Linked DNA regions of Homo sapiens: all the other regions are linked to region 3. Evidence: fine-mapped expression QTL. A gene starts in region 3. Each other region holds a variant in brackets. All regions are shown on one strand. Distances are from middle to middle.

Region 1 (10,657 bases), 54 kb after region 3:
AGATCACGCTGTTGCACTCCCGCCTGGGGAACAGAAAAAAGAACTTTCAGAAAACAAGAGCATAAGCATAAAGCCACAGATGCTTAATTGCGGACAATAAGACTTAAAGTAACCATGATTAAAGATGCAATTGACAAGGAAATTTGGTCATTTTTTTTGTGGCCTACAACTTTACACAATATCCATAATTGTGACTAATAACACATACCAGGACATACCAGATTTTTAAGAATCTCATTCCATTTTGGAACACATACTAACACATTTATACAAATATGACTCGCAAAAGGCTAAACATTATTTCTTATTTCACAATCCTTCCTGCATGATTTTAACATACCAAATAAGCCTAATATGTCTCTCTTGTACTTCCAGGGACCCTTCTGGAGTGTCCAAAAGTTAGCTTGAAGTCAAAAAGACTTAATTTAGAATTTGAAATTTGATTTTAGAAAGCCTGTCAAATATGTCAAAGATTTAAAACACTGGAACAGAAATAGGATCATAGGTCATTCATTTAGCAAAACTGATAATTAAAATAATTCAAAAAGCAAAAATCTTTTCTTTATGTTAGAGAGGGGACTCAGTTTTCTAAACTATCAAAAGGCCTAATAAAGACAGCTGGAGGCAAACAGAGTCTATCTGTCCTTCTCTTACTGTGTGCCCACTTTTTTGCAATTTACGAAAAATGAGCAACAATTTTTTTTTTTACTCATTAATACTACGCAAAAATCTTTTTCAAAAGAGAAAAGCAAATTTTATTTATTTTAATTTTTTTAGAGACAAGAGTCTCACTCTATCACTCAGGCTGGAGTACAGTGGTATGATTATAGCTCACTGTAACCTTGATCTCTTGAGCTCAAGCAATCTTTCCACCTTACAACCTCCTGAATAGCTAGGACTACAGGCACATTCCACTGTGCTTGGCTAATTTATACTTTTTTTTTTGCAGAGATGAGGTCTTGCTCTGTTGCCCAATCATGGCTCACTGAAACCTCACCTCCTAGACTCAAGCAATCCTCCCACCTCAGCTCCCCAAGTAGCTGGGACTACAGGCATGTGCTTCCATACCCAGCTAATTTTTGTTTCTTACTTTTTGTAAAGACAAGGCCTCCCTGTGTTGCCCAGGCTTGTCTCGAACTCCTGAGCTCAAGCAGTCCTGCTGCCTTGGCCTTCCAAAGTGCTGGGATTACAGGCGTGAACCACTGCACTTGGCCTTGCCGACAATTTAAAAACTAGTTTTTCTTTGCCAGATATTACTAAATTGACATGAACTTGAAAAGCATTTTGGCTGATTATTTAATTTATGAACACTCATTTATTTAAAAGTCAATTTGGTACCATGTAGATAATATAAAAAGGCAGCCATGTACACATGTATGCATAAAATACAGACAAACATAAGTAAAGATTTTATAGCATTGATTTAAAAATTTTAGCAATAAGACAGGTAAAACTCACATAAAGGGCAGTTGAATTCAAACTCTGTCATTGTAAATGGAACGAGTTAAAGTTTATCTGTCCCACATATTCAAAGCCCTTATAAGGGTTTTTTTTGTTTTGTTTTTTGTTTTGTTTTGTTTTTTTTTAGAGAAAACAGTGTAGCACATTTATATCTCACAGCACAAAGAGAATTTAAGCTTTCTGAAGAAGAAGTCAGGGTGTGTTAGAGAAAGATTAAAAATAGATGCCTAGGTAACACAAAATTATAGGAATTCACCACAGGATTTTATAAGGAGATCAATTTTAGTTAGGTAGTTTTCAATTTAGTCTCCATTTTCCAATTGGACCACTCAGCTCAGGGTGAAGCCCATTAATGAATAATGCCAACAAAATGCTTACAGTTTCCTGGGCCTAATACTGGTATTTGTGAAAAGCAGACACAGCTGGAAGGCAGAGCACCTAGATCCTAGAAATTTATGACCCCATTTTCACACTGAATTCCAGTTTCTCAGAGTGGAGGCAAAAGTCCAAGAGAGAAAGGTCATGGAAACAGGTCGTGCAATCTTCTACAGTGTATCTCACTAGAAGGAAAGTTCCCCAAGGCTGGTGGGTGACTCAATAAAAGTCCCCCAAGGCTGGTAGGACTCCAGCCCACTCTGTGATCAGCCTATCCCCCATAGGAGTCTTATCCTTTGGTGGTGAGTGTTCCTACAGCCTCCAAGTTTCCAAAATGTACTTTTTAAAAAATCTAGCCATGCAAGCACTTTGGGAGCCCGAGGAGGGCGGATCACGAGATCAGGAGATGGAGACCATCCTGGCTAACACGGTGAAACCCCATCTCTACTAAAAATACAAAAAATTAGCTGGGCGTGGTGGCGGGCACCTGTAGTCCCAGCTGCTCGGGAGGCTGAGGCAGGAGAATGGAGTGAACCCAGGAGGCGGAACTTGCAGTGAGCCGAGATAGCGCCACTGCAGTCCGGCCTGGGCGAAAGAGCGAGATTCTGTCTCATTAAAAAAAAAAAAAAAAAAAAAAATCTAGCCATGCAAAAAATAAAAATAAAAAAAAGTAGCCTCTGTGTAATACCTATTCATTGCAACCACTGTCAGCCACCTCCAAAACTGCAGCCCTCACCAGTGACTGCAGCCACTGAATGTAGAGCCAGCCATTGCATACTCAAGGATCAGGTATTCTCTCACAGTACAAAGTAACTTCTGGTACCCTCAAAGCCAAAGCTGTCAGGGAGCTCAGTGCAAATGAGAGCAGAGCTTTAGACCTGAGAAGAACCTGCTCATGACTTTTGGTGCTTCATGAAGAAGACAGAAGACCCCAAAATGTGGTCAGAGGCACCTTTTTGGTCTTCCTTAAGGAGTGTCATAGTTGCTAGGGTTCCCCTCTAGATCTCTTCGTGTGGTATCAAAGGTGGTAAAGGAAGGAAGAATAAAAGTAAATGGGATAATAAGTCTCAGGGAAGCCAATTTGGGGAGATTTAAAACTTCTCAAAAAAAGTCAGTGAAGTTTTACCTTTTTCTAAGCAAAAAATTATACCAACAGGAAAGGAAGCAAACAGAGGGATGAAACATATTTTACACACTCACATATATATATACGCACACACATGTGTATGTATATGTACATAAACACACACGCACACATACAATTTTGAGACAGGGTCTCACTCTGTCACCCAGGCTGGAGTGCATTGGCACCATCATGGCTCACTGCAGCCTCGACCTCCCAGGCTCGAGTGACCCTCTCATCTCAGGCTCCCAAGTAGGTGGGACCACAGGTGCATGCCACCATACTCAGGTAATTTTTTTTTTTTTTTTGTAGACATGAGTTCTCCATATGTTGCCCAAGCTGGCCTTGAACTCCTGGGCTTAAATGATCTGTCTCAGCCTCCCAAAATGTTGGGATTACAGGCATAAGCCACCATGTCCAGCCCAAACATATAACTTTTTATAAAGAGTTTCAGTAAACTGAAAAAAATTCTCATGGGAGAAACAAGATCCAAAAGAGAAAAAGCAGAAAGGCCTTAAAAAAACTTTTAGTTTGAATATCAGTTTTTAATTAAGCTGGCTTCTGACCACATAAAGCTTTTTAAAAACAATCTTTTAAAATCTGTCAGAGTTTAGCCATGACAAACAGCCAATATTCTTGGTTTTGAACTTCTTTAAATCAAAGTTATCTTCCAAGTGACTCCAACCAAAACCTATAAGCCTTTTATGACTTAACCAAGGATGCATAAGGCATCTCCAAAAAGGTGCAAAGCAGTTCTCACAAGAACCAGAACTACCCCAAAGACAGCTCAAGGAAAAAAAATTTACTAGTTGCAAATGGGGTACAATATACATTTCTGACCAACCATGTTCTTTAGGGTCTTGGCTTATCAACTAACCATCTTCACATAAAGTCTCAGCAATTGCATGCCCCATAGAGGGAAGATTAAAATAGACAAACAATTAGTAAGACAGGAAACTAAAAGCTGTCCATGGAAGGGAACAAGAACAGTAATAAATGGGTACTCCAAAAGTCAAGAGTTACACACAAATATCAAACCTGTAATCACCCAATGAGTTCTTCCTGCCTGCTCTACAGACAGAATCAATTCATTTAGAGCATGGCATTGCAATAGAGAAAGAGTTTAATTGATGTAAGGTCAGCCATGTGGAAGAACTGGAGTTATCACTCAAATCAGTCTCCACGAAGGCTCAGGAGTTAGGGTTTTACACCTGAGAAGAACCTTCTCATGACTTTTGGTGCTTCATGAAGAAGACAGGAGACCCCAAAATGTGGTCAGAGGCACCTTTTTGGTCTTCCTTAAGGAGTGTCATAGTTGCTAAGAGTCCCCTCTAGATCTCTTCGTGTGGTATCAAAGGTGGCAAAAAAGGAAGGAAGAATAAAAGTAAATGGGATAACAAGTCTCCGGGAAGCCAACGTTTTGGACAATTTGGTGGACAGGGGGATAGGGAATGGGTGCTGCAGATTGGGTGGGGATGAAATCATAGGGGTATGGAAAATGGTCCACATGTGCCAACTCCACCTTGGATAGGGGCCACAGGACCAGTTGAGTTATGAGTCATGGGTCCAGATGGGGTCAGTTAGTTGCAAGACAGTCTGAAAAAAATCTCAAAACACCAATGTCAGGTTCTACAATAGTGATGTGATCTATAGGAGCAATTGGAGAGGTCACAAATCTTGTGACCTCTGGCCACTTGACTCCTGAGAAGTAAGGGATTATAGAAACTATATCTACATCTTATCAGCATTCAGACCCCACTCATAATCCTAACCTTATGGCCTTTCATTAGTTCTGCAAAGGTGGGTTAGCTTGGGGAAGGGGTTATTATCATCTTTGCTTTAAGATTAAACTATAAACTAAGTTCTTCCCAAAGTTAGCTTGGCCTACATCTAGGAATATAAGACTAGACTACAAGTTGAAATGTCTCCTTTTTAAATCCTGTGGGGAATCCAAAGCAGGCAGTTTTAGTGTACAAAGGATTTTAACTTTGTTTTAAATCTGATTTCTGCTTTTTTTTTTAAGGAGAATTTCTAAGGCTAGTCATGACACTAATATGTGTCTTTCTTTCAATTTGATCCTCCCACAAAAACAAATAAGGCAATTACTTAGAATGGAGTAAAATATTTTTCAGATATAGGAGTCTTTCTAGTCCAAAGGATCCATCTTCTGGCCACTAACGATTAGAATTTCCAACTATGTATTTATTTCAATAGCAACTCAATTCAATAAACCTCTTCATGGATAGACCAGCAGGTAATTTTCCAGGTTTGGAATAAGTTTTTACCACATAAGCAAGCGTATCCCTGGAGAGGGCATAGAACAGCTAATTCCCATGATTTCCCCAAATTCACTCCCAGAAATAGGCCAAAATAGCAAAAACCTCTTGTCACAGATGGTAAAGAATGGTGTTTGTGTGCACTGTTCCTTCATGTTCTGCAGGGAGCAAGTCTATGCAAATCTACCCCCAAAGTTTAAGGAAGCTGAGAGGCTGAAGAAACAGGCTGACAATCCAGTTTTTCAGGAAGAAAGATTTAATAGGGAATTAACAAAGAGAAGCCATCTCTGTGTCTTGTTTGATGGCAAGACAAGATAGTGGATCCCTGCACCATTTACCCTCCCAGGCCCAGGGTTTACATACCACAGGGGAGGAATGTGTAGGACAAGTGAAGTCAACACCCAGGGAAAGGCAAGAATGCTATGTGAATCTGCCAAAGGGCAGGATTTAAAGTCAAGGTTATTTGACCTAAGGGCAGAATTTACAGTAACAGTAAAGTAGAAATCTTAGAGGTATTCTCAGAACAGGGAATCAGAAGTCAACATTGTGGATAAGCATTCAAAATGGAATTGCTTTAGCCTCTACACTTCAATAACCCACAAATTTATAGGGGACTACCAGTCACAGATCCTTTAATTGGTGACAACAGGTAGGTTCTCTTTGGATTAGACTTTCCCAGAACTAACGAGGCAACAAAAGTCCCTTATGGTTAAGACTTCTTATGAAGACAAACTTCCCTGGCCGAGTGTGGTGGCTCACACCTATAATCCCAACACTTTGGGAAGCAAGGCAAGAGGATCCCTTGAGGCCAGGAGTTCGTGATCAGCTTGGGCAACATCTCCCACTCCCCTAAACAAAAAAAAGAGA[G/C]AGAAATTAGCCAGGCATGGTGGTACACACCTGTAGTCCCAGCCACTGGGCTGAGGCAAGAGGATCCCTTGAGCCCAGGAGTTTGAGGATGCAGCGAGCTATTTTGCACCACTGCACTCCAGCCTGGGTGAGAGAGTGAGACCCTGTCTCTTAAAAAAAAAAAAAAGAGACAAACTCCCCTGAGAGCTTGGCACATTCTGAACAAAGAGTGTGCTGCTTGATAGCTTATGTGTCTTGGGGTTCCCAGTCCTTTCAGAACGTAAACCAAAAATAAAATTCAAAGGCCTCCCTTCAACCATCTGAATGGACTGCCTCCTTGGCCAGGACACTCTAAAATTTAACCTGAAAGACTGGTTGGGGCCATGACTGACAGGAAGGGTGGGAGGGGTTGGACATACCTTATTATACCTCTCCAGCATTAACATCAACACAGACCTTAAGTCTGATAAGAAACATTTACAATCTATTTTCTCTGAAGCCTGCTACCAATTGCCAATTGCCAATCAGAATATGCTTAAATCTACCTATGACCTGGAAGCCCCTGCTTTGAGTTGTCCCATCCTTCCAGATCAAGCCAAAGTAAATCTTACATGTATTGATTAATGTCTTGTGCCGTATGGTTTGGCTTTGTCCCTACCCAAAATCTCATCTTGAATTGTAATCCCCATACTCCCTATGTGTCAAGGGCAGGACCAGGCAGAGGTAATTAGATCATGGGGGCAGTTTCCTACATGCTGTTCTCATGATAGTGAGTGAGTCTCACGAGATCTGATGGTTTTATAAGCATCTGGCATTTCCCCTACTTGCACTCACTCCATCCTGCTGCCCTTTGAAGAAAGTCCCTGCTTCTCCTTCGCCTTCCACCATGATTGAAAATTTCCTGAGGACTCCCCAGGCATGCAAAACTGTGAGTCAATTAAACCTCTCTTCTTTATAAATTACCCAGTCTCAGGTATTTCTTCATAGCAGTGTGAGAACAGACTAACACAGTAAATTGATACTGAGGTAGTGGGACACTGCTATAAGGATATCCAAAACTGTGGAAGTGACTTTGGAACTGGGTAATGAACAGAGGTTGGAATAGTTTGCAGGGCTCAGAAGAAGACAGGAAAATGTGTGAAAGTTTGGAACTTCCTAGAAACTTGTTGAATGGCTTTGACCAACATGCTGATAGTGATATGGACAATGAAGTTCAGGCTGAGGTGGTCTCAGATGGAGACGAGGAACTTGTTGGGAACTGGAATAAAGGTGACTCTTGCTATGCTTTAGCACAGGGACTGGCAGCATTTTACCCCTGCCCTAGAGATCTGTGGAACTTTGAACTTGAGAGAGATGATTTAGGGTATCTGGAAGAAGGAATTTCTAAGCAGCAAAGCATTCAAGATGTGACCTACTTTTTCTTTTTTTTTCTTTTTTTTATTATACTTTAAGTTTTAGGGTACATGTGCACAACGTGCAGGTTAGTTACATATGTATACATGTGCCATGCTGGTGTGCTGCACCTAGTAACTCATCATTTAACATTAGGTATATCTCCAAATCTTATCCCTCCTCCCTTCCCCCCCCCCACAACAGGACCCAGTGTGCGATGTTCCCCTTCCTGTGTCCATGTGTTCTCATTGTTCAATTCCCACCTATGAGTGAGAATATGCGGTGTTTGGTTTTTTGTGCTTGTGATAGTTTGCTGAGAATGATGGTTTCCAGCTTCATCCATGTCCCTACAAAAGATATGAACTCATCATTTTTATGGCTGCATAGTATTCCATGGTGTATATATGCCACATTTTCTTAATCCAGTCTATCACTGATGGACATTTGGGTTGGTTCCAAGTCTTTGCTATTGTGAATAGTGCCGCAATAAACATATGTGTGCATGTGTCTTTATAGCAGCATGATTTATAATCCTTTGGGTATATACCCAGTAATGGGATGGCTGGGTCAAATGGTATTTCTAGTTCCAGATCCCTGAGGAATCGCCACACTGACTTCCAGAATGGTTGAACTAGTTTACAGTCCCACCAACAGTGTAAAAGTGTTCCTATTTCTCCACATCCTCTCCAGCACCTGTTGTTTCCTGACTTTTTAATGATCGCCATTCTATTTGGTGTGAGATGATATCTCATTGTGGTTTTGATTTGCATTTCTCTGATGGCCAGTGATGATGAGCATTTTTTCATGTGTCTTTTGGCTGCATAAATGTCTTCTTTTGACAAGTGTCTGTTCATATCCTTTGCCCACTTTTTGATGGGGTTGTTTTTTTCTTGTAAACTTGTTGGAGTTCATTGTAGATTCTGGATATTAGCCCTTTGTCAGATGAGTAGATTGCAAAAATCTTCTCCTATTCTGTAGGTTGCCTGTTCACTCTGATGGTAGTTTCTTTTGCTGTGCAGAAGCTCTTTAGTTTAATTAGATCCCATTTGTCTATTTTGGCTTTTGTTGCCATTGCTTTTGGTGTTTTAGACATGAAGTCCTTGCCCATGCCTATGTCCTGAATGGTATTGCCTAGGCTTTCTTCTAGGTTTTTATGGTTTTAGGTCTAATATTTAAGTCTTTAATCCATCTTGAATTAATTTTTGTATAAGGTGTAAGGAAGGGATCCAGTTTCAGCTTTCTACATATGGCTAGCCAGTTTTCCCAGCACCATTTATTAAATAGGGAATCCTTTCCCCATTGCTTGTTTTTGTCAGGTTTGTCAAAGATCAGATGGTTGTAGATATGCGGCATTATTTCTGAGGGCTCTGTTCTGCTCCATTGGTCTATATCTCTGTTTTGGTACCAGTACCATGCATTTTGGTTACTGTAGCCTTGTAGTATAGTTTGAAGTCAGGTAGCGTGATGCCTCCAACTTTGTTCTTTTGGCTTAGGATTGACTTGGCAATGCAGGCTCTTTTTTGGTTCCATATGAACTTTAAAGTAGTTTTTTCCAATTCTGTGAAGAAAGTCATTGGTAGCTTGATGGGGATGGCATTGAACCTATAAATTACCTGGGGCAGTGTGGCCATTTTCACAATGTTGATTCTTCCTACTGATGAGCATGGAATGTTCTTCCATTTGTTTGTATCCTCTTTTATTTCCTTGAGCAGTGGTTTGTAGTTCTTCTTGAAGAGGTCCTCCACATCCCTTGTAAGTTGGGTTCCTAGGTATTTTATTCTCTTTGTAGCAATTGTGAATGGGAGTTCACTCATGATTTGGCTCTCTGTTTGTCTGTTATTGGTGTATAAGAATGCTTGTGATTTTTGCACATTGATTTTGTATCCTGAGACTTTACTGAAGTTGCCTATCAGCTTAAGGAGATTTTGGGCTGAGACAATGGGGTTTTCTAGATATACAATCATGTCATCTGTAAACAGGGACAATTTGACTTCCTCTTTTCCTAATTGAATACCCTTTATTTCTTTCTCCTGCCTGATTGCCCCGGCCAGAACTTCCAGCATTATGTTGAATAGGAGTGGTGAGAGAGGGCATCCCTTTCTTGTGCCAGTTTTCAAAGGGAATGCTTCCAGTTTTTGCCCATTCAGTATGATATTGGCTGTGGGTTTGTCATAGATAGCTCTTATTATTTTGAAATAAGTCCCATCAATACCTAATTTATTGAGAGTTTTTAGCATGAAGCGTTGTTGAATTTTGTCAAAGGCCTTTTCTGCATCTATTGAGATAATCATATGGTTTTTGTCATTGGTTCTGTTTATATGCTGGATTATGTTTATTGATTTGCATATGTTGAATCAGCCTTGCATCCCAGGGATGAAGCCCACTTGTTCATGGTGGATAAGCTTTTTGATGTCCTGCTGGATTCAGTTTGCCAGTATTTTATTGAGGATTTTTGCATCAATGTTCATCAAGGATATTGGTCTAAAATTCTCTTTTTTTGTTGTGTCTCTGCCAGGCTTTGGTATCAGGATGATGCTGGACTCATAAAATGAGTTAGGGAGGATTCCCCCTTTTTCTATTGATTGGAATAGTTTCAGAAGGAATGGTACCAGCTCCTCCTTGTACCTCTGATAGAATTTGGCTGTGAATCCATCTGGTCCTGGACTTTTTTTGGTTCATAAGCTATTAATTATTGCCTTAATTTCAGAGACTGTTATTGGTCTATTCAGAGATTCTACTTCTTCCTGGTTTAGTCTTGGGAGGGTGTATGTGTCGAGGAATTTATCCAAATCTTCTAGATTTTCTAGTTTATTTGCGTAGAGGTGTTTACAGTGTTCTCCAATGGTAGTTTGTATTTCTGTGGGATCGGTGGTGATATCCCCTTTATCATTTTTTATTGCATCTGTTTGATTCTTCTCTCTTTTCTTCTTTATTAGTGTTGCTAGCGCTCTATCCATTTTGTTGATCTTTTCAAAAAACCAGCTCCTGGATTCATTGATTTTTTGAAGGGTTTTTTGTGTCTCTATTTCCTTCAGTTCTGCTGTGATCTTAGTTATTTCTTGCCTTCTGCTAGCTTTTGAATGTGTTTGCTCTTGCTTCTCTAGCTCTTTTAATTGTGATGTCAGGGTGTCAGTTTTAGATCTTTCCTGCTTTCTCTTGTGGGCATTTAGTGCTATAAATTTCC
Region 2 (10,657 bases), 110 kb before region 3:
TTACAGCAAATTATGTCTTACAGAGAAAATTCTTTCTAATGTTGGTTAATATAATTAACACCTTGTAACAGCAGAGTTGTGAAGTTTTCATCATATATAGCTACATTTTAGAAAATCTGATTTGAGTAATAGTGCATCCATTCCGTTAATAATAGGTGATATTATAAAGATGTTCTTATCTTTTAAATCAGGGAATATGCCCCAATCATATAACTCACTGAATAATTAAGTGGCCCTAGGGCATATAGGTAGAAATTTAGCCAGTTGTAAAAACTACATGTTGATTACCCGTTGCAAAAAGCTAATATATGTTCCTCTGAGCTTTTGCCTCAGCCACATATTCTTTTCCGGATGTTGAAATAAATATATTTATGATGAAAATAATACTTTGGGGTTCTGAATTTTTGGAAGATATTTAATTTCATATTAAAATGTTTTTAACAATGCTTTTAAAATAATAAAGTTATGTGTTCATGCAAAATTACATTGTCAACATGATAAAAGAAACTCAATACAAAGTAGATGCGACTAAGCCTAAATGTTTTCTGCATAAAGATTTTATTCAATAAAATCAGTCGTTTCATTGATAAATATCTTCATTTAAATGGATGGACTTAGATTTTGAGAAGCTGGCATCATATTTCTGCATTATATTTTATTTTTAAGCAACAATTATGAGACTTTCTGCTTTGGGTACATAGTGATACTAGATAAAGTTAAGTGTAAGGTAGATTTTATCATCTAAATTCTACTTTCTTATTTACTTCAATTATAAAATATTAAGTACTCTGGGAATATAATAATACATTAGTAGAAAATATGATGTAAAAACAATTTGTTCTGTATTTACTTTTAAACTAAAGCCAACTGGCCAGGCACGGTGGCTCATGCCTGTAATCCCAACACTTTGGGAGGCTGAGGCAGGCAGATCACAAGGTCAGGAGATCTAACACGGTGAAACCCCATCTCTATTAAAATTAAAAAAAAAAAAATTAGCCGGGCGTGGTGGTGGGCGCCTGTAGTCCCAGCTACTTGGGAGGCTGAGGCAGGAGAATGGCGTGAACCTGGGAGGCGGAGCTTGCAGTGAGCCGAGATCGCATCACTGCACTCCAGCCTGGGTGGCAAAGGAAGACTCCATCTCAAAAAAAAAAACAAAAAACTAAAGCCGACTGGAGTTAAAGGTCAGTACAATGAAATGTCAGTGTAAGTTTGATAGATATATGTTCTATTTTGTAAATATTTGTGATAACTAATTTTAGCTATTTCAATATATGTAATTGAAATGTCAGTGACTAGATTACTGAAATAAAATTTTGTTGTTATTATGTGGTAAGGCTTTGTGTTTTGGTTAGATCTTATTTTTTTCTTCTGTTTTGTCTTATTTTAATATTTTGTCCATTTTTTTCTCTGAATAGGTAAGTATGAAACAGGATGTTCCAATAAAGAAAAAAAGAGTATTTAAACCTGTCTTGCAGGCAAGTCAGTTCTATCTAAAATAAACCAGTGCAGAAGTGTGATCTGCAGGTTTGGTCAGGAGCTAAGAGAGAAAACAAAACAGGTGATACTGACACATATTTACACTAAATTATTTTCATGCAGACAGAATTAAACAAAACATATTTGCATGAAAAGGGATTATAATTCAGGATTAGAGATCAGTTAGTTGCCTGTGATATCCAGGGTTACTTCGAGTATACAACATCATCATATAATTAAGAAATCTGAAATCTCAGAGCTTCTCATAATGAGCAAAGAATATTTGGCCCTGAAGGCCTTAATGTTCACCTGCTGGATAGTTAGAAAAAAGAAGCAAGTCGTGATTCTCTTCCGCTATTTACTATAAGGAGTTTAAATTTCCTTTTGGAATGATATTTACTGGAAAGATTCTTTGCTTTAAAGGAATGGCTTTATTTTCCTTCACTTAAAAAATTTATTATATAAGCAACAACAAGAAAACTTCTAAAGAACATTTACCTACAGCCCATTCTCTAATACTTCAGTTTTCATTTTTCTGTTTGCATGTATATTTTTCAAAATTATATTAATGAAATGTGATTTTTTAACTTTATAAATTTTTATGTTAGCTGTCTTTTTAATTATTTTAAATGGTTGCACATTTTAAATCACATTGACAATCATCACTTATTAAATCTTCCATTCACTTTGGTAGGAGATGAAGAATATTATAAAATATATTTTAAATTATGTTTCATTGTTGATAGTATTTTAAAAATAATTTCTGCTGGCATATTTTTAGAATTTGGATTACTAGGACAAAGGGAATTTATTTTTCTTCTTAATAGGTGCTCTTGGATAAAAGTATCTTAAAGCAATTTTGGAGACCATCATATTCAAGTCCTAAATATATAGAGTAATTAGTGAAATTTCTTAGTTGTTATTGTCATTCCTTTATGTGTTTTTTTGTAGCATAAATATTCAGCAGTGCTTTGCTGGGATATTATTATATAAACAACAGCAATAATAGCAACAATAACAATAAATAGCACCAAACATCATATAGTGCTTTTATGGCTCTAGTTTATTATTAGAAAGGGTGAAAGAATCAGGTGAAGTGCAGATAAAACCATGGCTGCCTATGCTGTTCCCTCCTTCTGGGAGAGGTCAGACAGAACATGCTCCTTTTTATAGCAGTAAAATGTGGCAATATCTGTTTCTGCCTAGGGAAGCCTATTTATGACTCAAAGTTCAGGGTTTTTATTGGGGGCTTGTCACACAGGAACAATGACCAGCCTACAAGTATCAAAAATTCCAGAATTCTAAAGGAAGGCATGTTTCAGTGCCCCAGCCAGGCAAAACAACCTCATCACTTAGGAACATTTTTAAAGCCACATTTCCAGACACCAACCAAGAGCAATCCTATAAGCAAGCCCTTCCAGTACATCTCCCCATTAGAAAAATGAATACTGTCCTTCCAATGACAAACTATAGACATGAATGCAATTGTCCCACATGACAAGTGGATGGTTATCTAATAAGGAGGACAGCTTTGACATTTTATTGCCATTTATTTGAAACATTGCATTGTATTGAGAGATATATATATATATTTGCCAGGTATATTGTTTACAGAAAGAGCTAAAGATAAAAAATCACAGTCTTCAAGAGACTTCTGAGCAAAACGTTATTCTACAGCATACTCTTCAGCAACAGCAGCAAATGTTACAACAAGAGACAATTAGAAATGGAGAGCTAGAAGATACTCAAACTAAACTTGAAAAACAGGTATATATTATTAGCCCAAGATTGTTTTATTTGTATGAAATAGAAATTTTTAAAATCATGAATAGATTTTTCGTTAGTTTTTTAAATTGCTGTTTGGCCAGATGCCGTGGCTCGTGCCCATAATTCCAGCACTTTGGGAGGCTGAGGCAGGCGGATCACCTGAGGTCAGGAGTTCGAGACGAGCCTGGCCAACATGGCCAAACCTCGTCTCTACTAAAAATACAAAACTTAGCCAGGCATTGTGGCACATGCCTGTAACCCCAGCTACTGAGGAGGCTGAGACACAAGAATTGCTTGAACCCAAGAGGTGGAGGTTGCAGTGAGCTGCAATCGTGCCCTTGCACTCCAGCCTGGGCGACAGAGTGAGACTCCGCCTAAAAAAAAAAAAATTGCTGTTAAACCTCAAGGATTTTGCATTATAAGAAATACTCTATACTGATATTGTAAAATAAAGTTCTATTCCTATGTAATCTGACCTCCATCTCTTATACCATGATTATATGTTTGCTGTTCCATACAATTTATAATTCATGTTTCTTTATTCAATCTCTCTTCTTGTACCTAATCTGAATACCTATAATTTTTCCTTTTTGGATCAGGACATGGTATGTGATATTCCTTAAAGAAATGGCAAAGCAGTGCACTAAAAGAAAAATCCCAAGGGAAAATACCCCTGAAAGTTCTAAAATTAAAAATTATTACTTACTTGAATGTAAGAATTCTAGAGAATTTTATACTAGAATCTAATCTTTTTCCTTTAATTCATTACTGAATTTATCTGAATTCTTTAGATATTTTACATTCTTATTTTGTTTTTTCTTTGAAAAGAAATCAAATTTACAGTAATGTGTAAATTAGAAAATGATCGTCCCCTGTAATCTTACTGTATTTTCCTTTTTTGTCATTTTTTCGGTCTTTTATCTACTTGTTCTGAAGTCCTCCTCAGCCTGTCCAGTGGAACTAAAGTATCTTCCTCTCACTACATTTAAACACATCAGGCAGGTATTCTGTATTTTTTTTTTGAGACGGAGTTTCACTCTTGTCACCCAGGCTGGAGTGCAATGGCGCGATCTCAGCTCACTGCAACCTCCGCCTCCCGGGTTCAAGCGATTCTCCCACCTCAGCGACCTGAGTAGCTGGGATTACAGGCATGTGCCACCACACCCAGCTAATTTTGTATTTTTAGTAGAGACAGGGTTTCTCCATGTTGGTCAGGCTCGTCTCAAACTCCCTTCTCTGGTGATCCACCCACTTGGGCCTCCCAAAGTGCTGGGATTACAGGCGTGAGCCACTGCTCCTGGCCTCTATTTTTTTTCAAGAGACATCTTCCTGTGACTCTCCATCCCTTTTGTTAAAATTTAGACCTACTGCTTGCTATGCCTACTATACAGCTTCATCCTGAAGCATTTCTTCTTCTCATCTATGTTTGATTCCCACTGCCTACATCCTTTGTCATTGACTCTGGTTCTTGCAGGATTGATTATGATTCTTGTTCCTAACTCACTTCTATAATGGTTGTATGGTTTTTTCTGTTTTGTTTTGTTTTTTTTTAACAAGTTCACTTTTTTTTCTTTTTTTTCTCTTTTTGAGACGTAGTCTCACTGTGTCGCCAGGCTGGAGTGCAGTGGTGCGATCTTGGCTCACTGCAACCTCTGTCTCCCAGGTTCAAGTGATTCTCCTGCCTCAGCCTCCCGAGTAGCTGGGACTACAGGTGCGCACCACCACATCCAGCTAATTTTTGTTTTTTTAGTAGAGGCGGGGTTTCACCATGTTGGCCAGGATGGTCTTGATCTCTTGATCTTGTGATTCGCCCACCTCAGCCTCCCAAAGTGCTGGGATTACAGGCGTGAGCCACTGCGCCTGGCCTCATTTGTATTTTTTATTTGGTGATTTTCTTTGTGATCTTGTTTTAAAAGATTTTGTGTTCT[C/T]ATTAGCTTCACTGAGGTCTACAGAAGTTTATATCTAAAAATTTCTTCAGTATTTGGAGTAAATTTTTGACTTGGTATTCCTTTTCTGCCTTTCATTCATATTACACTGTGCATAGGTTCCATTTTGCATCTTCAGATTTCTCTATTTAATTAAGAATTGAGTAGGTGGATTTTCCTTGGTTCCTTTCCCTTTTTACCTGGGTACTGTTTTAATTTTCTTCTTGAAACTTGAGGTGGAGGGGTGGATATTAATGGGGTTTTCTTGTTTTGTTTTGTTTTGAGACCGGGTCTTACTTTGTCACCCAGGCTGGAGTGCAGTGACATGATCATGGCTCAGTGCAGCCTCAACTTCCCTGGGCTCAGGTGATTTTCCCACTTCTGCCTTCCAAGTGCATACCACCATGCCCAGCTAAGAGTGTGTGTGTGTGTGTGTGTGTGTGTGTGTGTGTGTGGCTTTTCTTTTTTTTTCTTTTTTTTTTTTTTGGTAGAGACAGAGTTTCACCATGTTGCCCAGGCTGGTCTCGAACTCTTGGGCTTAAGAAATCCACCCTCCTTGGCCTCCCAAAGTGCTGGGATTATAGGTGTGAACCACCGCACCTGGCAAGATATTAATGGTTTATGATCTATATTTAGTTCTTCAGTGAGGGATTTTAGAAGAACGGGGGATATGCAGGTCAGAGTTGAGAGGTTAACTTTGAGACCACAGTCATATAAATATTCATGAAGACATGGAGTGACTGAAATTACCTAGGGAGAGAATATAGAATGAGAAGCAAGAAGATTGACTTGGACAGATCCCTGAGGGATGTGATACATGGAAGCCAAAGTAAGTATTTCATTAAGGAAGGAATGAATGTTGCTGTCATGGGCTACTGGAATCAGTGTCAAGTAAAATGAAGGTTGGGAAATGTCCATTGGAATTAGCAACTTGGAAGTCACTGGTGTTGTAATCCCTGTTTCTGTGGAATGGCCTCTGGCTATGGGTTGAAGAATGAGAAGTGAGACAGTGATACAACATGCATAGAAAACTTTGAGAAGTTGGGCTATATATGGGAGGAAATAAAGGGTAGTAGGTAGAGGGAGGTCAAGGTCTGAAGAAAAGCTTTTTACAGTGGGAAAGTCTTTTAACATGTTTAAATGCTAATATTAAAAAAACAGTAGAGAGACTGAAGATATTGGAAAGAGGAGATAGTAGTATGAAGTTCCTGAAAAAATGAATAGGAATTGAATCCACAACACCTATGAAGCAGTTTGATTTATATAAAGGAGGAAGAATACCTCCTTTATTGTAGTAGAATAGAGGAAGAATGAATAGGAACAGATTCAAGTTAAGATGGGAGCAAATGCAAATTAGCATTTGAGGTCATGTGGAAATCTAGGAATCTATTGAGTGAGCCAATTCGTGAAGAAAAGAAAGGAGCAGTATGGTAAGAGAAGAAAGGGCATTTCAAATGGGGACAATGAAAAGGGGAATATTTACTATCATTTTGTTCAATTATTTTAACACTTTAGTGTTATGATGTGGCCACTTCCCTAAATAGTAATATGTATGTGAAGTATCTTTATTATTAGAAAGTAAGCCTTGCTTTTTATATTTTCCAAACATTACTTCTTGGTCTATATGTTGATTTTTATGATACATCTTGAAACTGATAAGCTAGGTTACATATTTATAAAAGTATTTTTCTTCTGAATTTAAAATGTTTACTGAAAACTGCTTTACAAGGTGTCAAAACTGGAACAAGAACTTCAAAAACAAAGGGAAAGTTCAGCTGAAAAGTTGAGAAAAATGGAGGAGAAATGTGAATCAGCTGCACATGAAGCAGATTTGAAAAGGCAAAAAGTGATTGAGCTTACTGGCACTGCCAGGTAAAATGTGAATATGTTTTATTTACCTTCCCACTTCAATATCAGTGGTATCTGAGTTTTGAAATCAGATAATGTTCAGTGGAGCATTTGCTTGAGGAATTAATGTCTCCATAGTCTGTGTTCCTATTGCATTTTGTTTGTATTTCCTTCATATCTCTCATTATGCTTTTTACTGTATTACAGTTTAATGCTTTTAACCTTCCTACTATAAGTTTCTTAAGGCAAGGATCATACCTGGTTTATTTTAGGGTCTTACACAACAACTGGCACAGTTCCTTATACCTCATAGGCACTCAGCAACTGTTAATTGTGAATAACATTAAAAGTTGTAGGCAAAAATGTAAATGTACTCACATAGAGGAAACTTTCAGGCAATCCAATTATATAGGGGAAGAATGACAATATAAAAGTGGTTCTCAGCCTTGAGTGAATATTAAAATCACCTCAAGAGCTTGTAAAAAAACATACTGATGACTGGGTCCCACTTTTAGATTAAATAAAACCTAAAGATTCTGATTTAATTTGGCTAGGCTGGTCCCAGGCATCGATACTTAATTGGTCAAGAAAGGAACCCATGAGCTGAAAGCAGTACCCAGCCTCTTCAGATCTCTTCTACTTTGTTGGGAAGAATTGACATAATTTATAACATAATCAGCCCACCCTTCTACCAACAGGAGTCAAGAGTGAACTTAGGCACTGGCACTAAAACCACATGTCCCCAGGTTCCCTCTCCTCCATTGACAGGGGTCCTTTGTGCTCAGAGGAGCAACTTGCTTCCTCAGATGTCTGTCACCCTCTCAGCAGGGTTGAGGGCTTCCCAAGTTTAAGACTAAGACCAAAGTATTTCACACCTTCTTTCTTCCATTGACAGATGTTCTACTCACTAACATGGCCTCACCACTGGTGTCCACCTTGAGTCTGTGAAGACTGACTGCATTATCACTTTATCCTTGTTTATGCCAGATACCACAAGAAACCCTAGATTTCCAGGTCAGCTCTCATATCTCACACTAATTCCCAAAAAACTCTCCACACATTCTGTTTCTTTCTCCAACCCCATCCCAACTTCTGAAAGACTTCTACTGTGCCTTTTGAACTTCATAATCCATTCTCTGTATTCACTACTTTTTCTTTTCTCTTGCTGTAATAGAAACCTGGCCCTCCCCTAAGGACATTGCTTCTTCCCCTGTAGCCTTCTAAAGTAAAAAACTTTTCCCCATAGCTCTTGTACCACAGGGTCCAGGCAAGGTGTGAAGTATATACTATACTTGGTGAACCTCATGCCATCAGAACCCTTACTGGTGCTGATTTCTTTAGACGGCCTGACTTACTGTTGCCCTCTCCAGCATCACTTCTGTCATTCTTCTTGGGGATTTCAGTACACCTCTGAAGCTGATCCTTCTGACACCTTGGCTTCTCATTTTTAACAATTTCTGTACTCTAGTGATCCTGATCTTTAACATACCTCAGCCACTTACTCCCATGGAATTTATCTTGTGCTGAAAATTTAAATCAAAACCAAATAACATTTTTTGGTAGAAATTTTCTAAAATGTATATTTTCTTGGGGTTTTTACTTTCTCTGGGTATCTCAGGGTTATCATTATATACATCATGCTAAAATGTAGTGATACCCTAATGAAACTTTGAGGCATATACAGTTCTGTTTTTTATAAAATGTCTGTAGGCTGCTAATGCTTTTTGAGTCCTTGTATATTTTCTATAATTTTCCCCTAACTCCTTTGCTGACAAGCCATCTGCTCATGGCTCTATGCCAATCTCTTTTGATTATTCTTTTCTAATTATCTGTTTTATATCTACTTTAATATTAGAGCTAATTGGTCAAGCTAAAAATTATTTACTTGGGATTTTAGAAATGTAAAAGTGTCATTAGCACTCATCTAATCTAGTACTTAATTGGTCTATGGACATATTTGAGGATCTGGTAAAAAGCTTTAGCTTGTCTTCTATACATAGATGTATACATGTACATTATACATGTATAATTTTGCATACTGTTTCAGGGGTTTTATAGTTTTCCTTAAGTTTACTCATGGACTTCCAATTAAAAAACTCTTGAACAAATCCAAATTTGTTGAAGTTTTATCTAGAAAAGAAATGCTCCTACTTGCAAACTCAATTTAGAAATTTCAAAGATCAAACAACAGAAAGTGTTGACACAAAGGAACATGAACTCTTCCTACCATTGAGGGTAACATTAACAATTGTTTAATTAGTAAATATCACTTTAGAATTACCAACAAAGGGACTTAAAACTGGCTCTTAGTATGTTGATTTGTCTGTAGGGGAGCTGCCGTATTAGAATAAGTTCAGGACTGACAAAGTTAGTAAACCTGGCCCTATCACTATTAACAGCTAGTTGTATTATCTCAGACAACTCACCTAGTCTTCAGTTTCCTCCTCTGTAAAGCAGGGAAGTTGCACTAGTCTAGGAATCTCTAGTTCCTTTTAAAGCTAAAAAAAGGATAGAACCAATAATAAAACTGAGTAAAAGCAATTGACTTGGCTCTCCAGTGAGTAATATGGTTTTTATGGTGAATAATTTGATTGTTTGGCTTATTTATTTTCTTTGTTGCTAATAACAAAAATTCCTAGATGAATGAGGTCCTTGGATATTTTCAATACATGCAAAGCTAAAGTTAAATGTGGTTAGAGTGAAAAGAATGCTAGGCTTGTTAAATATTACCAGGTAGTAGTAGTAAAGTTGTATTTAGTGGTATGTAATGTGTAAAGGAATAGTTTTTAGTTGGAGAATTTTTAAAAATAGGTGATTTAAAATTCCAACTAGATATTTTGCTGATATTTGTCCTTATATAACTTGCAGGCTTTTTTTTTAGTCAGAGACAAGTTAGTTGGTTAAGTTTCTAAATTACCTGTTTTATTATTTGTTTTTAATTAGGCAAGTAAAGATTGAGATGGATCAGTACAAAGAAGAGCTGTCTAAAATGGAAAAGGAAATAATGCACCTAAAACGAGATGGAGAAAATAAAGCAATGCACCTCTCTCAATTAGATATGATCTTAGATCAGACAAAGACAGAGCTAGAAAAGAAAACAAATGCTGGTAAGCAAGTGGTTAGATGAGTATAGCTGCCTATGTATTTGTACTTAACGAAGTGAAATAATGTGAGAATTTGAGATGGTGGGGCTGGAAGGGAAAATAAGTGGTATTTTGCCTCTCGTAGATGAATATAATTGAATATTCTTAATATATACAAAGTTTGTAATAAATGGTTTACATATAGTTATAAAATTATTCTCTCCTCTTAATAGTAAAGGAGTTAGAAAAGTTACAGCACAGTACTGAAACTGAACTAACAGAAGCCTTGCAAAAACGGGAAGTACTTGAGACTGAACTACAAAATGCTCATGGAGAATTAAAAAGTACTTTAAGACAACTCCAGGAATTGAGAGATGTACTACAGAAGGCTCAATTATCATTAGAGGAAAAATACACTACTATAAAGGATCTCACAGCTGAACTTAGGTGAGTTAAATAATAAGAAATTATATCACAGTTATAAGTCCTTGGATAATACAATAAAATATGTTGTTGCATTCTAGACGTCTAAATTTCTCAACTGTCTTTGGCTCACTT
Region 3 (10,657 bases):
CACAGGAATGTATCAGCTTTAACTGAAAAGACCAAAAAAAAAAAAAAATTCTAAGGTGTTTGTTCATGAACTGTTTGTACAAATATACTGGATATATACCATTTATTCCCAGTTCTCATCCTCCTCTGCAACGCTTGACACTTTGGGCTACTTCTTTTTCTCAAACTTGGTTGGTTGTGTATCTGTTTTTGTGACAATGAATTTACACAACTTCTCTTGCTGTTTCTTTGACCCCTCCTTTGCCCTTGCCTGTGGTCATTCTCTAAATATTTCCTTAGTCTTCTGCTCTTCTCCCTTTGCAATCACTGTCTATAATCACTCACCTATAATTTGGCTTCAACTTGTCCTTTCTGTGAAACATGCTCAGATCTGTATACCTAATCCTGATCACTCCATCTGTGTCTTTTCAATCTCATCCTCCTCCATTTCTTTGAGCTTCATTTTGCTTGTATTTTCAATCTGCTTCTCTTCTCTGGCTCCTTTCCCTTGAGCTACATGTGCCTTTGCAATTCCTCCTTGACCCTGCTTCTTCCTTAAGGTGTTTTCTCATTGCTCCCTTTTCCTTCACCACCAAACTTTTTGAAAGAGTACTCTCTGCTGCCTGGCTCTAGTTCTCCCCCCATTCCTCTTCAGTTCTTTGCATGTTGACTTCCGATCTCTCTTCCTGAACTTTTACTTCAGTAACACTATCTTTGATCCCCTTCCAACAATGCCTCTCTGTGGCATCTCACACTCTTGTAACTCTCTCCCCACGACTTCCTTTACATAATGCTTCTTGGTTTCTATCAAATCTTTCCTCAAATATTTTCTTCTTTTTGCTTTCTGTCTTTGAACATTTTTCAAAAAATTCTACCATCCTTAAAGGTCTTTATCCAGTTTCAAAGTTAACAAATATTTATTGAGTGCCAAGGACTGTCCTGGCTCTGGGGATGCAGAAATAAACCAGACCCTCACTGGCTCTGGGTACTTACAGTCTAGCTTAAACAAACCCTGCTATAGAGGGACTTGTTACATAGCCCTACTATATGATCCCACATCTCCGCTGTCCAACTCTCACTGGATACATCCATTTGGATAGCTATTTCTTTCTCTCCATCCAAATCTACCTCTTCTTACCATCATTGTCCCCACCTCCATTATTATTTAGGCACGGTCCTCGTATCTCACGGTAGATGCAGGCAGAAGCTAAATCCTGTAAATTCTGTTTCCAAATGCCTCTAATTTGTTTCTTTTATCTTATTATCACCAAACTTTCTTTGTTCAGGTCTACATCATTACTATTTTTACAATAGCTTAATAATTAATGTTCTTGTCTCTGTCCATTCCAGACCATCTCACATGCGAACTCAAACTAATCTTTTTAAACATTATTGTTTATGTCATCCCCCTTCTCAAAAATGTTCACTAACTCTTTCCACTGCTTACAAAAGGATCTCCAGACTTCTTAAAATGATGTGGAAAGACTTGAGACTTTGTAGTCAGAAAGCTTGGGTTGCATTTCCAATCTGCCACTTATTCACTCTGTGACCTTGAATAATCTCACTGGGCTTCAATTTTCCCATCCATCAATTGGGATTAATGACTAGTTATAAAGACCAAATACATGTGAAAGTGCTTTATATTTTTAAAGTCCTATAATGAATATAACCTTTTTTCCTTTTTTTTTTTAATTTAGAGATAGTTACCAAATTACAAATAGCTTCAGCTTTGGAGTTAAGTAACAACCTGGTTTGAAATTTCAGCTCCATTACTTATTATCTGTGAGACTTTGAACAAATTAGTAAAACTCTCTGAGACTGTTTTCCCCCCATGTCAAAACACCTATTTTGCATGGCTATATGGAAATTAAATGAAATAGCAAATATGAAAAACTTTTGGCCCAGTGTATAATTCATATCAGGCACTGATCTGTTTTCTTTTTGCCCTAACCTACTTTTCCTGCATCATATACCACTACACCTCTTTACAAACCTTATTAATAGAGCCACTCTAGACTACTTTATTTCCCCAAGCCATACAATGTACTTTTGTGTTTTTTCTTCAGCTACATGCTCTTTCCTTCCCTATCAAAATTGTACTCAATCTTCAAGGTGCAGTTAAAATATCCAGTCCTCCATAAAACCCTTTGTACTCCACAACTAGTGTGTTAATCACTTCTTCCCATGCATTCTTAGCCTGTATATTTTATCACAATATTTATTTGAATCTGGTTTATATTCTGCTTCTCCCACCAGATTATAGGGTCTTCAAGAACAAGGTGGGAGTTATATTCATCTTTATTTCTCCCACATCATAGTCAGGACACTAGACAGTTATTGAATGAATGTAGAAATCAGATGCTGTCTTCTCTTTCCACTTTCTATAGGACACCACTTCTACAAATGCCTGCCCAAACATGTGCAAAAGCAAGCACATCTTCTCTAAACAGCTCCCTTTCAACTCCACTGTTTTTGACAGTGACACTCCCCTAACCCTACTCTGAGGCTAAACTTTTTTTTTCCTTTTCTTGAGGCAGGGTCTCACTCTGTCACCTAGGCTGGAGTGTAGTAGTGTCATGGCTCACTGCAGCCTCAGCCTCCTGGGCTCAAGTGATCCTGCCACCTCAGCCTCCCAAGTAGGTAGGATCACAGGTGTGCACTACCACACCTAGACAACATGAAAAAAAAAAGTTTCATATATATGCATTCTCTCTGAAACTCTTAAAGCTTAATAAGGAGATGTTCTCTTTGTCCTTAAAAGCCTATTTATAATACAGATACATGTAGTGTACTATAAATAACTATTTAAATATGGGCTACAGATTAGCATATTTTATGACATATCACACTGGTATTTATATCCAATTAAATTTCTCTCAGCCACGTATGTAATAAACTAGTTACATGGTTCATTACTAGTTGAAGACTGACCAAGCCTGATAAAGATGATAAAAGACACTAACATTATATAACACTTCATACTATAAAAAGTACTTTCACACAACTCTCATTTGATTTTGAATCCTGTGTGTTACATAATATTTCTATATCTGAACTGAAGAAAATGAGGCTTGGAGAGTGACTTGTCTAAGTAAAAAAAAAAGCTGGGACTGGAACCTACAACTCTTACTACACATTCAATTCTGTTTATGCTACCACAGAAGCCTGTAGCAATAAACTATTACTGAAATAATGTGTGCTCTACTCGTCTATTTAGCATAAGTCTATAAACATAAATGTTACATGAAAAAGCAAAGTTATAGTTTTTTCAGGAGAGACAAGATAAGGGTCAGTGACACTGTGACAACTTGGGACATTTTTTGCCAGCCAGCTTTTTCAGACGGATAAACTTGTTAAGGTCAAGATAAATTTAGGCACCATAATAAATCTTTAAATCAACAGTAAACTGACAAAAAAAAACAAACCCACCACTTCATAAAGTATTTTTTTTTTTTTGAGATAGAGTCGTGCTCTGTCTCCCAGGCTGGAGTGTAGTGGTACGATCTTGGCTCACTACAAGTTTTGCCTCCAGAGTTCAAGCGATTCTCCTGTCTCAGCCTCCCAAGTAACTGGGATTACAGGTGCCCACCACCACACCCAGCTAATTTTTGTATTTTTAGAAGAGGTGAGGTTTCACCATGTTGGCCAGGCTGGTCTCGAACTCCTGAGCTTAAGTGATCCGCCCCCCTTGGCCTCTCAAAAGTGCTGGTATTACAAGCATGAGCCACCATGCCCAGCCTGAAGAAAATTTAATTAAAATACTGTTTTTAATCAAAGAAATTTTGTTTTGACTAAATTTAGTAGCACTGAAAAACAAGTGTCTACACTTCAGAAATTAAAGAACCAGTAAGTTGTCCTGCAGAAAATGCTAAATGAAAAAATAGCATAATAAACTGTAATGTCTTCTTGAGAGCAGCATATAGGGCTCAGACAGAACGTTTTAAGAAAACACTGTCAACAAGCCAGTTGCCATCATATGTATCAAGAGTAATGAATCTGATGAACCAAAGTGACAAAATGGATTTCAACAGTGTCTTGTTTAGTTTTTAGAAATTCCAACATCCCACTATTTATAGTATAGCCTCTTCTTCCACATGACAGTATGACAGACTCAGTTTTTTTACTTTTTTTTTTTTTTTATCTTTTTTGAGACAAAGAATCTTGTTCTGTCACCCAGGCTGGAAGTGCAGTGGCACAACCGCAACTCACTGCAGCCTTGACCCCCTGGCTCAATCGATCCTCCCACCTCGCCCTCCAGAGTAGCCGGGACTACGGGTGCCTGCCACCAAGCCTGGTGAAAAAAAAACCCGTGTTTCATATTGTCATATAGAAGAGGCTATACTATAAACAGTGGGATGTTGGAATATATATTTATATATATAAATATATATTATATATATATATATATATATTTTTTTTTTTTGTAGGGACGGGTCTCACTATGTTGCCCAGGCGGGTCTTGAACTCCTGGGCTCATGTGATCCCCCTGCCTCAGCCTCCCAAAGTGTTGGGTTTACAGGTATGATGAGCCACAACGCCTGGCTGACACACTTTTTTTTTTTTTAAATGCAATTTCTGTTTAGACCTTGACACCTGTTGATATTACTAGTCACTATGGAAAGAAGTAAAAACAGTTGCTTAAGATGCTCTAACACTTTTTTCCCCTGTAGAAGCCAACATGGAATACAACATGAAAACTGTCTAAATGGGAACCTTCTAATATAGCTCATTGTATGCCATGCATTTCCACTCCATTTCCACTATGTTGGAACTGACTTCTGCTTTCCTACTTAGCCATTAGGCGACTTAGTTGCCTCTAGGCAAGTAACTTCTCTGAAATGTTTCATTTTTCATGAAGTTTAAAAAAAAAAAGGTGAAGGACTTTAGAGAGCTTTGAACCGAATAAGGTCTATCAGACATCTTGAAAAGCTTTTTCTCCAGACGACGCAGAAACAGGCACACGGGGTTCTGCTTTCCCCACCTCCCACCCCCAAGCCCAGGTCCCATTCTTCTCACTTTCAATCCTCATTTGGGCTCCTAAAGGAATAGCAAAGAGAGTTATTTTATCAATACCAGCGCTCCTCTGTCCCCAAATCCAGCTAGGGAAGGTTTCGGAGGCCTCAGCTACTTGAGAGAGGGTAGAGACGATCCTTCCTCGCCTATCTACCCAGCCACCCACCCCTTCCCAGATGTAGCGTCCGGGCCCCAGACCAAGCGCGTGCTTGGAGCTCTCCGGTACAGTGAGGCGCGCGCTTGCCTGGCTAGGGTCCCTGTGAAGGAATGGGATCCCGAGGTGCTTGCCAGGACCGTAGCAGGCGGAAGCTGCTGGCAGCGCGAACGGGCGGCTCCCGCCGGCGTGGGTGGGGGAAGGGCGGCAGCCACACCCGGAAGTCGGTCCGGGAGGGAGGGGGAAATCTGAGGGAACGAGGCTTCCGGTGGCGCAAAGGGTGTCGGGAGCGGCTTCCTGCAAACCTTCCCTGGCATCTGGAGGGACCACCGTTGCCGCGTCTTCGGCTTCCACGATCTGCGTTCGGGCTACGCGGCCACGGCGGCAGCCACTGCGACTCCCACTGTGCCTGGCTCTGTCCATATTAGTTCCCAGGCGGCCGTCGCCGTTCCAGCAGCGGCAGCGGCAGCGGCAGCGGCGGACATGTTGTGAGGCGGCGGCGCGGGTGTCTGAAGGATGGTTTGGCCGAGGCGGCGGCAACGGCTGCTGGCGGCGGCGGCAGCGGCAGCGGGGCCTCGGGCTCTATAGAGCCGAGCCCGCTGGGTACCCGCCCGGTACCGCGGCGAGGCCAGTGCCCCTGGATCTTGCCTCTGCTCCGACGCCGTTGGGGACCAGTTAGGCGACAGCGCCCGCCCCTCTGAGGAGACACGAAGGTGGTTCCCCAGCCGCTCAAATTTCCGGACCACCGCGCTTTCCCCTCCTCAGCCTGGGCTGTGCTCTCTCTAGAATCCTCGGGCCCCCACTTTCTTCCCAAACTCATCCTAAATCTCTCACACACGCGAGTGTTCCCAGCCCTCAAGCCAGCTGCTCCTCCGTTCATTTTCTGCACCCTCTTCGCAAAGCACCCCCCGGGATCACTCTCCGAGGGCGACTTTTTGAGAAATCTCGGTGGAGTAGTGGACCAGAGCTGGGGAGTTTTTAAAAGCCGGGGCGCGAGAAACAGGAAGGTACTATGGCTTCCTCGTCTGGCAACGATGATGATCTCACTATCCCCAGAGCTGCTATCAATAAAATGATCAAAGAGACTCTTCCTAATGTCCGGGTGGCCAACGATGCTCGAGAGCTGGTGGTGAACTGCTGCACTGAATTCATTCACCTTATATCTTCTGAAGCCAATGAGATTTGTAACAAATCGGAAAAGAAGACCATCTCACCAGAGCATGTCATACAAGGTAAGTCGTGTGTGAGAGCTGGTTTGAATGAGGTTCTAGGGTAGCAGTCTGCTAATCGCGTGACCCTTTCGTGTCAAAGCCTCCATTCCTCTTCCCTGGTAAGTAACTTAATGAAAAAGCCAGACTGGCATGTAGGCAGCCGGTGCTTTAAAAACAATCCCTTTGTAGCATTTTTGCAGTACTTTTCATCCAGCGAATACATGTAAGGAGTGCAAACATTTAGGTCAGCGTCCCCAAAACGTAAAGAATAAGAGTGATCTCACTTTACAGCCAGGTAAGCCGAAGCAACAAGAATTACTTGCCTGAAGTTGAACTTAGATAATAATTAAGGAACGCAGAAATTCTCCTTTGGAAAGTTAAAATTCAGACGGAGGAACTTCAACGTGGGTGGAGACAGAGCACCCCCTTCCCCACCTGACCTTTCACCAATGTAGAGGAAAAGATTTATTTTCTGAACACATGAGTTAAAAAATTCTTAACATACAATGTGTTCAACGTTGTCAAGTTTATCGTTGTTAAATAAAAGGTGTATGTTTTCTGCTCTAAAAATGGTTTGATGGTACGTTCATGAATGAGTTACCAAATAACTCCTGTTCCATTCTGTAAGAATAGGGTGAACTTTAAATTTTCGTTTTTTTCTTTTCGTTTGCTTTTATGTCGTTTGCTTTGTTCTATTCTGTGGAGATAAGTTTTGAAATCTTTGATTGAAAGTTTATGCAAGTTTTTTTTTTAACGGAAAATTTCCCCGTCCTTTCCTGCTGTCATTCCTATTTGAATGTATACACTTAGGCTTTTATGGAACAGCACTTCTGAAAACTTCAACAGTTTCTTTTATCCTGGAAAGGATTTGGTCCCGTAATAGGGATTTGGGGGACTGTATTCTGGTGGTTTCAGAGAGGAGAAACATATTTACTATTCATAATGTTTCGGGAACGTACCTTTTGCGATATTTTTACATGTACTCTTGTGAAAGAGTTGTACTCAATTTGAGGTGAGAACTTGCCTTTTGTAATAATCTAATTAAAGTTATTGATTGCTTGTGAAATCAGGGAAAAATGATTAATTTTAATCATTTTGATAGGCAGGTGGTTGTCTATCACTTAATTTTTATAATTTAACTTTTTAAAATGTGACTTTCCTGTTGTACTGAAGTAGAGAACACATCTGCTTATATTGACCATATCCAATATTTTACTCTCAGTATTGACAAAAGGATTAAATGATTCATTTTTAATCCTTTATGACGTCTTGAAAGTAGTTTTAAAATATATCCTGCCATTTCAGTACACAAGCAGAAAAATCCCTAGGAAAAAGCATATTTGATTCTTAAAACTAGTACTAGTTTTTTTTTTTTCTACTTGTTTGGTGTGCTGAATACTCTAGCAAGTAAAATGAAAGCCAAGTTGTCTATTTTTTCCCTTGTGTATTTATTTTTACATTGTATGTGTGATTGCTGTCATAAGTCTTTCACAAGATTATCCAGCACAGATAGCTATAATTTCTTTTTACAACTCTTAAAAAGGAAAAAGAACCTTTATCAACATTGCCTTTCTAATGAAAATTGCAAAAGATTTCAGCAGGGTCTGCCTAAACATTTGTTTACACTACAGAAGTGGGGATCGTTCCAAAAACCTAATAACACATTACAGTCTGTCTTCTTGGGGAGAGTTGATTCTTTTCTAGGATATATTTAGATTTCTGATTGACATGATGGAATAGAAGTGCAGCTGTAGCAAGCAGTATGCTAAATAATTCAACTTTGGAATATGCTAAATTCAGTTTAATGTGTGAGTCAGAAAGCTATAGTGAAAAAGCATTTCCATTGTGTAATGAAGATGATTTGTTTTTAAAAATCATGTATTGACGTGTTACCTTAAATTTAAAAATTTACCTTTTTTTCTTGTATTATGCTATTCTTAAAAGTGGTTAAGAATCTACATTTTCGCCCAAGAATTCTCCCTAGTTGGGGTTGTAGACTTTATACATTTATAATCTCATATTGCTTAATTATTCCAAAGAAGTTTTGTTTTGAGAGATTACATTTTTAAAGAAATTCTTAAGGTTTATATGTTTTAGGTGTTTGAAGTGTGTGCCTATACACTAATCATAATAGGACATTTTTATACTTTTCTGTCAGCATTGATTAGGAATGTAGAATATATCCAAATGGAATAAGTAATGTACATTTTAAAGTGATATGATTCTCACATGTTGAAGTTTGGGTTTTTAGTGATAAGTTTAATGAATTAGACTTTGCTTCAGGACATTTCACTTGTTCATTTCTCACCTTGCTTTATCTTGTCTGAGCAAATTAAGCATTCTGAGATAGTTCTGTAAAATGCAAGTTAAAGTTGAACTAATTTTATCACCAGTATATCTATGAAATAACTTATTTAAAAAAATTTTTTTTTCTGTTTTGCTTATTTTGAGTTTAAGAAAGTAGACTTGGTATTGAAGACCATAGATACATGAATAGAGGGAGTTCTAAGCTATAAAAGGTGTTCCTATTTTGTTGCAGTTTTTTGTGAACACGTATTCTTGAATGAGTTCTAACATGTTCTGTTGCCTTATAGAAAGAATTGACATTGAGAGTCAGCTGTAAGTTCCGCACTGAGAATTCTTTAACCTTAGGGAAATCTTTTAACTAAGGTTTTCTTATTTGTGTACAAATAATACTTGATTTCAGGTATTACTTGTAATTTTTGAGAATTAGTCAGGGGTTGAGAACCTTACATGAAATATCTCCCCTCACATTTATGAGAATTGTAACTGAAAGTAGTAAAAGTTTGAAAGAGTATCTGAGAATTTGCGTCTTCAGCTGTTGAGTTGCTCCAAGCTGTCTTACGTTGAAGGAATTTTTAAAAAATTCCTGTCCTTCTCACACTAGTAGCTTTGTAAGATAACATGAAAATAGATCACTGGAAAAGATGAGGGAAAGACCAACACTCAATTTTTTACTATTTGATTCAATAGACATAAAATTATTTTGTCAAATTGCAATGAAGGTACTTAAATGCTTTGAATTTCCATACTTAACTAATGTTAACCATTAGGAGCAGTTTTGGCATAAGTCCATGGACCACAGTTTGAGAACCTTTGCTCTAAAGCCTAAACCAGTCTCTGTTGGAAAGTGGACGTAAGTAGTAAATAATCGTTTATACAGATATTTTTTCCGAAGGGACACATCTAATTTGCACTGCAAAATTTATCACATAATCAAATGCTTTTCAAGTTAGGATTTTATTAATACTTTTCTTTAAATTAATATATCTTTTATTTCTGTTTTCCTTCTGCCACCCCACAATTACTTATTGAATACTACCAATTATTTGGCATCATGCTAGGTACTACTAAGGATATTAAGATAAATGATACTCAATTCCTTCTCTGCCATTAGTCTCTCATTGTTGTCCAAGATTTCCAGTAGTGATACCATGGAGGACATGGTTCTTAAGGGGTTTCAGAAACCTTTGCCAGGCTAATGAGCCAAGAAGTCACTTTGGCCTACATCCTCTTAATGTATTTTATGTGAAATACATTAGTTGCTTCCTTCCCACAAACAAAAGAAAATGGAGAAATTAGAGAATGCTGATTTATATAGTATTTAAAAGGTACTGTATATCACGTAATTTTACAAATGAAAAACATGTTTTATGCATATGAAGTATAAAGTGAGTCACATAAATTCATGTTATGACAGAACCTTTCAGGAGTACATCACTTTGTAAAATAAGATAAGCCTATATGAAGATTATTGTTGCTTCAAAGAAATTTTTACTTCTTTTTTGTTTTTTTAATAGCTGTCTTGTTAACATCTGTCTTTTAAGCTGAAAAATGTGCAAAGTATTTTTTCCCCTAATGTACACCATGGACTTTTCTGGTTGTAGTTTTGAGATACACGGCATAGGGTGACAGATAGTGATGTGTGTTAATTTTACTCACAAATTTTTAAAAAAATATTTTTCTGTTTTGGAAAGATGAGATCCTTAGAAATAGGGCCATGAATAGTCCATAAGGTCTCTGTACAAATTAGAAAAAGGCACTCCTTCCTTAAAAAGCATTACTACTGTCTGCCAGAAAAAGTATCACAGTAAACATACGAATTTATGGTATTTACAATAAGAATGGCCCTCTAGTATGTTGTGTACTGAACAACCTACCTAACTGTATGTAAATGGTGGCCCTGCTTGGGAGCCATTTCCTTTATCCTTTAATATTCTCTTTGTGTAAAATGGGAATGATAACTAATACATGATAGCAAATAATGTAAAATATCTCTC

What was found. PIP is the estimated chance that this variant, and not a neighbour inherited with it, causes the effect.
Region 1: its variant is fine-mapped to the expression of DR1 in whole blood (TOPMed, PIP above 0.99).
Region 2: its variant is fine-mapped to the expression of DR1 in whole blood (TOPMed, PIP 0.95).

Annotation. Positions count from the first base shown.
Region 1 is chr1:93,394,451-93,405,107 of GRCh38, forward strand. No RefSeq gene overlaps it. Among named protein-coding and RNA genes, the nearest start is that of FNBP1L, 48 kb to the right of the region's middle. The variant G/C (reference allele first, on the strand shown) is at 6,103.
Region 2 is chr1:93,229,351-93,240,007 of GRCh38, forward strand. It overlaps CCDC18 (coiled-coil domain containing 18), which reads left to right. Exons shown (of 29, transcript NM_001378204.1): 18 at 3,076-3,243; 19 at 6,898-7,040; 20 at 9,960-10,123; 21 at 10,333-10,546. Among named protein-coding and RNA genes, the nearest start is that of CCDC18, 54 kb to the left of the region's middle. The variant C/T (reference allele first, on the strand shown) is at 5,172.
Region 3 is chr1:93,340,489-93,351,145 of GRCh38, forward strand. DR1 (down-regulator of transcription 1) reads left to right here and starts at 5,419. Exons shown (of 3, transcript NM_001938.3): 1 at 5,419-6,377. The coding sequence starts at 6,158. CCDC18-AS1 (CCDC18 antisense RNA 1) reads right to left here and starts at 5,323. Exons shown (of 9, transcript NR_034089.1): 1 at 5,236-5,323; 2 at 1-22. RefSeq lists enhancers at 5,014-5,549, 5,919-5,988, 6,049-6,258.